Linked DNA regions of Homo sapiens: regions 1 and 3 are each linked to region 2. Evidence: fine-mapped expression QTL. A gene starts in region 2. Each other region holds a variant in brackets. All regions are shown on one strand. Distances are from middle to middle.

Region 1 (2,661 bases), 370 kb before region 2:
CCGCCGGGAACCATTCTCCCCAAGCCCAGAGGCAGGACTTCGCAGCAGGATGGGGTGGAGAGCCCGCGGGAGTGACCCCCACGAGAGTGAACGCCCCTCACACTCCCACCATCGCCGGCTGGCCCCGGAGCGGGAGGCCCGCAGCCAGATCTTCAGCCAAGGGACCACGATTCGCCGGGGGGCTGGGGGTTTGCTGCCCAGGACCGTGCTGCACCAGGGCCCTGAGCCGTAGGGGGATGGGGGGAGGGGTGGGGAGATCCCGGCACCAAACCCTTCTGCGCCGCTCGCTCTGGTGTATCCTACATGCAGGGGTGACTGGGGCTTTCCCCCAAGACTCAGGGGAAGGATGGAGCTGTAGGGGCTCTTTTTAAGTAAGCTGAAGCTCTCGAAAGGAGGAGGGCACCAAAAGTAGTGGAGCTCAGGTACGTCAACCTAGTTGCAGTGGCCAGAGATGCATTAAATTTCTAGATCCCTGTATATAGTTGTTGACATATGCACTAGAAGCTATAATCACATAGAATTCTATGTATATCCTCCCACACCCTGGGTAGCTACTGACTGAAGGGGTCAAGCAAGGGCTATTTGCTGTCCCCCAAAAAGTACACCTGGCCAGAAGGGCACAAACACGGCTTCTTAAATCACTCACTTTCTCCTGTTCCCCTCCTGTTTCTGAAATATAAGTTTATGACGTTCTTTCACAAAAGAGTATAATCATTCTTAGACTGTTGACATGGCTGTGGAAAGCCTTAGGAGAAGTAGAAACAATTTAGGGAGGGTGGGGAATGTACTCATCCCCTCTTCTTTCCATCCTAGTGCCCCCACCAAAGAGGCTTCTTGTTGCAGCCCTCAGTATCTGGATATGGGCCAGGGAGGAAGGAAGGGAAAGAGCAATGCTGCTGTGCTTCAATCCTGGCCTTCCCCTCACAGAATTCTTTTAGGAAGAGCAAGCTTTTGTAAGTAGAGTGGCAAGTGTTTTTATCTTTTTTTTTTTCCTGCTCCTCAAAATGTTGTCTTGTTCCGGCAATCACTTTTGCCTTCCCTCTTTCCTGAGCCTGTAGTGACAAAGCCCGGCGATTTGGGATGAAATCTGTTGTAACACCAGAGCTTTGATTACACATCCTCTGGTTTTGAGTTATTCTACAGAATCAGAAAGGCTGGAAGGTGGGCTTCACACTCAGGATTGTGCTTTGAGAACCAGCTAATAGACCAGCCGAGGGAAGGTTGAATTGGCTGTCTTTACTTTTCCCGATAAGCCCTACTTAAATGCAGCCTGTAATTGTATAAAGGAGATGAGAAACATCAAGA[G/T]AAATGACATACATGTAGCTCTGGGGTAGCAAGAACTAGACTTCCTCAATTTGGATTCCATTTCCTTCTGCCATTTGCTTTTAGGCAATTGAGTGTGGGTAGTGATGAGATATCAAATCCCTTAGTGTTTCCATTTTGGGAAATGAGGCACTATTTTTTTTTTTAAAAGACAACTTACCCACCTGAGTCCTGAAACAGTTTGTCTCTCCAGTTTTCTGGCCTATACTCTAGTTAGCTCTGATCCAAGTTTACAGGACAACAGCCTTGCTTTAAGCCATGTCCTGTTGTGGGCACGATAATAGCAACTGAGCTGTCACAGCCTACCAGCAGGCTGGTAACACCTCCAGGGTCTCTTGGCTAGAGCAGATTTCTTAGCAGCTGACTAGGACTTCAGTCATTGGGAAGCCTATGAGGCCTTTACATTTTTGGTGTGAGATGGGGAAGAAACATAAAATGCCACTTTACAACTTCAATAATAGCCTGTAATTTATATTTACTGTGTGAATTTTTAGTCCTATATTTTAATAATTTGTAAATTGATCTCTTATTCCAAGAATCCTTTGAACTTGTAGAACATCTGGGAGTCCACTTCCCTGTCCTCTTCCTGATCCCTGCTTTCTGGACTGTTTAAATCCTCTTTGGGATGGATCAGAGAGTCTAGAGAGGCCACTCATAGGTCCAGCTGCTGGCCTCCTGACTCTCCAAAGCCTTCACTGGAATTGGGACATTTGCTCCAGCCCTAGCTGTGAACATGACCAGAGACATTATTTATAATTCAGCCATTTAAGATATACCTGTACTCAAAAAGTCCTGTATATTTTTAAAAAGTTTTATTTTTCAGGTGAACAAAAATACATCCTAAGAACTCTGCCTAAGCCTGTGTAAGTTGATCATTTCTCTTACTGTGCTTCGTGGGGACGGAGTAGAGGTTGGAAGAGTAAGTGGTCTGAGGTGTGATGGATGGATGGTGATGAATAGGTTGAGGAGGAAAAAGCAATTGCCCTGCTGTTCTCAGTGCCTGATGGCTTGAATGAATTGATTAGCGAAGGGCGGCAGAATCCATCTTAGTCGGGAAGCAATCCCGGGGTGGAAGAACAGTGATCTCTAGCTCAGCCACCTTTTGCCAACCTTAAACAGGCTGAGAAAAAGTTGTGCTTTACCAGAGCAGATGCCTAGCTGACAAAGCTAAGGGACCAGTAAGCATGAATATTAAGATTTACTGCAAACATTTAGCTGGCTAAGCACTGAGGTGAGGATAAGCTGCCTGATAGCATCACTGTCCTCACCTTTCAACCATTGGCCTCTAGATAACTCAAGAAGTGCTAACACCAGAAAGGCAAGTGTACATCTGTGGTG
Region 2 (2,845 bases):
CCCATCATAGCTCACTGCAGCCTTGACGTCCTGAGCTCAAGCAGTCCTCCCACCTCAGCCTCCGGGATAGCTGAGACCACAGGCACAAGCCACCACGCCCAGCTTATTTTTTTTTTTTTTTTTTTTGAGATATGGGGTCCCACTATGTTGCCCAGGCTGGTCTCCAACTCCTGAGCTCAAGCGATCCTCCCCCACCTTGGCTTCCCAAAGTGCTGGGATTACAGGTGTGAGCCACCGTGCAGGCCTTATATGATCTTCATATCCTGAACTAAATGTAACCTTCCAGTTTCGGCACTTGCTCTGGCACTTTTCCTCCCTCGCCAGATAATACTAATCTTTAATCATGTAGTTCGTTTCCATGCCCATACTACCCTATTTGCTTATAATGTCTTCCACTTCGCCCAAGAATCCCTACTCAGCTAGCTTGTGGTGTTGTTTTGACACAGTCTCGCTCTGTCGCCCAGGCTGGAGTACAGCGGCGAGATCTCGGTTGGCTGCAACCTCCTCCTGAGTTCAAGCGATTCTCATGCCTCAGCCTTTCGAGTAGCTAGGATTACAGGCATGTGCCACAAAACCTGGCTAATTTTTGTATTTTTTACTAAAGACGAGGTTTCACCACGTTGGCCAGGTTTATCTCCAACCCCTGACCTCAGGTGATCCGCCTGCCTTGGCCTCCTAAACTGCTGGGATTACTGGCGTGAACCACCGCGCCCGGCCCTACTCAGCCTTTAAAACCGGAATCACGGGTCAAAACTTTCTGGTAAACCACGATACGGTTTAGGTTATGAAATTCAATGCCCCCTTCCTCTGAACTCCTGCAAATCTCCAGTAAAGCACCACAGATTGACGAATATTCCAGCCATTTCCCTCTCCCGTACGCTAGCTCCATTTCCCACTTCTATCCATCTTCTCGAGCTTCCTCAGCTCCTCCACCTCCATGAGGCCTGGAAAGCACCTTGCTCCAGGAATGCGAGTAGGAGGCTCAGAGCGACCAGAAGTGCCAAAAGCTGACATTCAGATACTGCCGAAACAAACCACAAGAGCGCTAGGGCCCCCGCTAATAGTCCAGCTGCGATGGTGAGAACTCGCGGACCCGCCGGCGATGCATGCCGGGAGATGTAGTCCCGGGCCGACGCATTACCTCTTGGGAGTCGTGGTCTTCGATCTGGTAAACAGAAGACGGCAACTCGGTTAAGTCTTCCCCCACCGCCCCCTGAAATCCCTCGCCCCACCCGCGAGGGACTGGGGTAGGAGTAGGGGCGTTGCCGTGGTTAGCCTCGAACTCCTAGGCTCAGACGATACTCTCGCCTCGGCCTCCCGAGCAGCTGGGACTACACGCGTGAGCCACCGCCCCCGGCATAAAGTTTGAATTAGTCCTTACGCAAAAAGGGAAGAGGGCAGTCTGTAAACTCGCGCAGGATCAAGCTCTCGAGCTCCCGTCTTGGGTTAGCGCGCAGGGCGGAAGCGGGGAGAAGGCGGATCCGGGAGGCGGGGATACGTTACGTCGACGCGGGCGTGACCCTGGGCGAGAGGGTTTGGCGGGAATTCTGAAAGCCGCTGGCGGACCGCGCGCAGCGGCCAGAGACCGAGCCCTAAGGAGAGTGCGGCGCTTCCCGAGGCGTGCAGCTGGGAACTGCAACTCATCTGGGTTGTGCGCAGAAGGCTGGGGCAAGCGAGTAGAGAAGTGGAGCGTAAGCCAGGGGCGTTGGGGGCCGTGCGGGTCGGGCGCGTGCCACGCCCGCGGGGTGAAGTCGGAGCGCGGGGCCTGCTGGAGAGAGGAGCGCTGCGGACCGAGGTGAGTGTGTGAGGCGCAGGCTGGGCCCTCCAGAGCCGCGGCTCGTCCTCGCCCACCTGCGTCCTGGCCGGTCCAGTGCTCAGCGGCAGTTGGGGCCTCCGCGCGCAGTGTGAAACCCGGACGTGGCAGGGCGTGTCCGCGCCCGACCGACCCTCAGCTGCTGGGGCGAAAACACAAGTGGACCTCAGTCTTTAGAACTAGGGGAGAAACATTAGAGCCTTTATAGGCAACACCTATTTTATGGGTTCGAGCGAGAAGTCCGAGATCAGAGCGGTGTAGCCACAGCTGTTTAATATCACAGCCAGGGCTTCCGGATTCCTGATCTGTCTTTCCATTACACCGTGCTTAGAAAGTACCAATCTCCGATTGCCAAAACAGTGTTTTCATCATCTAATGCGGAAAACCATTCACATGATGCCTAGAGAATGATCTGAAGTGAGGTTTGGTTTTCTTAAAACTTTTTTTTTGAGATGGAGTCTCGCTCTTCCGCCCAGGCTGGAGTGTAGTGGCGCGATCTCGGCTCACTGCAACCTCCGCCTCCCGGATTCAAGCGATTCTCCTACCTCAGCCTCCCGAGGAGCTGGGATTACAGGCCCCCACCACCACGCCGCCAGGCTGATTTTTGTATTTTTAGTAGAGACGGGGTTTCACCATGTTGGTCAGGCTGGTCTCGAACTTCTGACCTCAGGTTATCCACCCGCCTCTGCCTCCCAAAGTGCTGGGATTACAGCCGTGAGCCACAGCGCCTGGCCCCTGTTTTTTTGTTTGTTTGTTTGTTTTTAACTTCTAAAGCGCAATGTAATATACATGTAGAAAAATTCACATTCACAACTGTATACAACTCCGTGAATTATTACAAAATATACTGGCCGGGCGTCGTGTCTCACGTCTGTAGTCCCAGCACTTTGGGAAGTGGAGGCGGGAGGACGATTGAGCCCAAGAGTTCGAGAACAGCCTGGTCAAGATAGTGAGACCCGCATCTCTACAAATAGGAAAAATTAGCTAGGCATGGTGGCGTGCACCTGTAGGCCCAGCTATTCAGGAGGCTGA
Region 3 (2,500 bases), 510 kb after region 2:
CACAATAAAATTGAATAGATTATGTGTAAAACTGATAAATCAAGAGAAAGCAATAAGCATGTTATTAGAAACAGGAAAATCCGGGCCAGGGGTGGTGGCTCACGCCTGTAATCCCAGCACTTTGGGAAGCCAAGGCAGGCAGATCACTTGAGGTTAGAAGTTCAAGACCAGCCTGGCCAACATGGTAAAATCCTGTCTCTACTAAAAATACAATAATTAGCCAGGCGTAGAGGTGAGTGCCTGTAATTCCAGCTACTTGGGAGGCTGAGGCAGGAGAATACCTTGAACCTGAGAGGCAGAGATGCAGTACAGTGAGCCAAGAGATTGCACCACTGCACTCCAGCCTGGGCAACAGAGAGACCCTGTCTCGAAAAAAAAAAAAAAAAAAAGAAACAGGAAAATAGCAGAAACTACATTTCAATGTGTTAAAAGTAGTTGACTCCCCTAATGTTTGTCAAAGTATTTTGTAAACTGTAAAGTACTGCACAAATATAACAATCCTGTTATTCAATTCTTTTTTTTTTTTTTTTTTTTTGAGAAGGAGTCTCGCTTTGTTGCCCAGGTTGGAGTGCAGTGGCACAATCTCGGCTCACTGAAACCTCCTCCTCCCAGGTCCAAGTGATCCGCCTGCCTCAGCACCATTAGTAGCTAGGATTATAGGCATGCGCCACCACGCCTGGCTAATTTTTGTATTTTTAGTAGAGGCGGGGTTTCACCACGTTGGCCAGGCTAGTCTCAAACCCCTGACCTTGTGATCTGCCCACCGTAGCCTCCCAAAGTGCTGGGATTACAGGCATGAGCCACTGTGCCTGCCCTATTCAACTCTTTTTTTTTTTTTTTTTTTTTTTTTAAGTAGTGCCTCTGCGCCAGGTGTGGTGGCTCACACCCAGCACTTTGGGAGGCCGAGGCGGGCAGATCACGAGGTAAGGAGTTCGAGACCAGCCTGGCCAACGTGGTGAAACCCCGTCTCTACTAAAAATACAAAAATTACCCGAGC[G/T]TGGTGGCGGGAGCCTGTAGTCCCAGCTACTCGGGAGGCTGAGGCAGGAGAATCGCTTGAACCTAGGAGGCAGAGGTTGCAGTGAGCTGAGATTGTGCCATTGCACTCTAGCCTGGGCGACAGAGTGAAACTCCGTCTCAAAAAAAAGTAGTGCCTCTGGCAGGGTGTGGTGGCTCATGCCTGTAATCCCAGCACTATGGGAGGCCAAGGCGGGTGGATCACCTGAGGTCGGGAGTTCGAGACCAGCCTGACCAAAATGGAGAAACCCTGTCTCTACTAAAAATACATTAGCTGGGAGTGGTGGCACATGCCTGTAATCTCGGCTACTCGGGAGAGGCTGAGGCAGGAGAATTTCTTGAACCCGGGAGGTGGAGGTTGTGGTGAGCCGAGATCGTGACACTACACTCCAGCCTCCAGGCGACAAGAGCAAAATTTCATCTCAAAAAAAAAATAATAAAAAAAATAAACGTAGTGCCTCTGAAGTGGAGTGGAGGGTTTTTTTTTCTCTTAAATTTGATTTTTTTCTTTTGCTTTTAATACAAGTGCACGTGATGCTTTTAGTTAAAAAATTAAACACACAAGCCCAAGGATCTGGCTGGGGAAAACCTGTCCATTAATTTGCTTCCAGTTGCAGAAAGGACAGCTGTAGTCCAGATCCCAGCACTTTGGGAGGTTGAGGTGGGCAGATCACCTGAGGCCAGGAATTCGAGACAAGCCTGGCCAACATGGTGAAACCCCATCTCTACTAAAAAGACAAAAATTAGCCAGGCATGTTGGCTCATGCCTGTAATCCCAGCTACTCAGGAGGCTGAGGCATAAGAATTGCTTGAACCTGGGAGGCGGCGGTTGTAGTGAGCCAAGATTGTGTCACTGCACTCCAGCCCATGCAACAGAGCGAGACCCTGCCTCAAAAAAAAAAAAAAAGAAAGAGAGAAAACAAAAAGAAAGGACAGCTGTAGACAACTGCATGTTCCTCTGATACCCAGAAAACCAAAGGGGACAATTTAGGAAATAACCTAGAACTGCCCAGACCTGTGTTACCAGGAAGTCTACTCTCTTTTGTTTTGGTAGATGGAAGTTTAGGGTTGTTTTAAGTAATTTGTATTTGTGCTGCTAATTCAAACCTAGTCATCTAAAAGCTAAGCTTGGCTAGCTGCAGTGGCTCATGCCTGTAACCCCAGCACTTTGCGGTTAGGCTGACTCAGAAGGATTGCTTGAGACCAGGAGTTTGAGACCAGCCTGGACAATATAGGGAGAACTCATCTCTGAAAAAAAAAAAAAAAAAAAAAAAAGTAAAGGAAGAGGGACCCAAAAGCTATCCATCCTCTAGCTATTCTTCAAGGCTAACTACAAACTTTTAAAAAATATTGGCCAGGGGTGGTGGCTCACGTCTGTAATCCTAGTACTTTGGGAGGCCGAGGTGGGTGGATCACTTGAGATCAGGAGTTTGTGACCAGCCTGGCCAACATGGTGAAACCCCGTCTCTACTAAAAACACAAAATT

Which allele goes with the higher level. Alleles are on the strand shown, and positions count from the first base shown. SD is a standard deviation of normalised expression in the study named. Not every link is listed here.
In carriers of allele T in region 3, the expression in lymphoblastoid cells of the gene that starts at base 1,544 in region 2 tends to be higher than with G alone (moderate effect, 0.72 SD a copy in GTEx).

What was found. PIP is the estimated chance that this variant, and not a neighbour inherited with it, causes the effect.
Region 1: its variant is fine-mapped to the expression of RAD51 in whole blood (TOPMed, PIP above 0.99).
Region 3: its variant is fine-mapped to the expression of RAD51 in lymphoblastoid cells (GTEx, PIP above 0.99).

Annotation. Positions count from the first base shown.
Region 1 is chr15:40,324,536-40,327,196 of GRCh38, forward strand. It overlaps INAFM2 (InaF motif containing 2), which reads left to right. Exons shown (of 1, transcript NM_001301268.2): 1 at 1-2,180. Among named protein-coding and RNA genes, the nearest start is that of INAFM2, 2.2 kb to the left of the region's middle. The variant G/T (reference allele first, on the strand shown) is at 1,306.
Region 2 is chr15:40,693,631-40,696,475 of GRCh38, forward strand. It overlaps RAD51 (RAD51 recombinase), which reads left to right and starts at 1,544. Exons shown (of 10, transcript NM_002875.5): 1 at 1,544-1,795. RAD51-AS1 (RAD51 antisense RNA 1) reads right to left here and starts at 1,475. Exons shown (of 2, transcript NR_040058.1): 1 at 1,382-1,475; 2 at 104-1,165. RefSeq lists enhancers at 534-713, 596-1,193, 1,074-1,223, 1,694-1,753, 1,791-2,388 and 1 more.
Region 3 is chr15:41,206,105-41,208,604 of GRCh38, forward strand. The region is part of intron 7 of EXD1 (exonuclease 3'-5' domain containing 1); the gene reads right to left. Among named protein-coding and RNA genes, the nearest start is that of EXD1, 23 kb to the right of the region's middle. The variant G/T (reference allele first, on the strand shown) is at 998.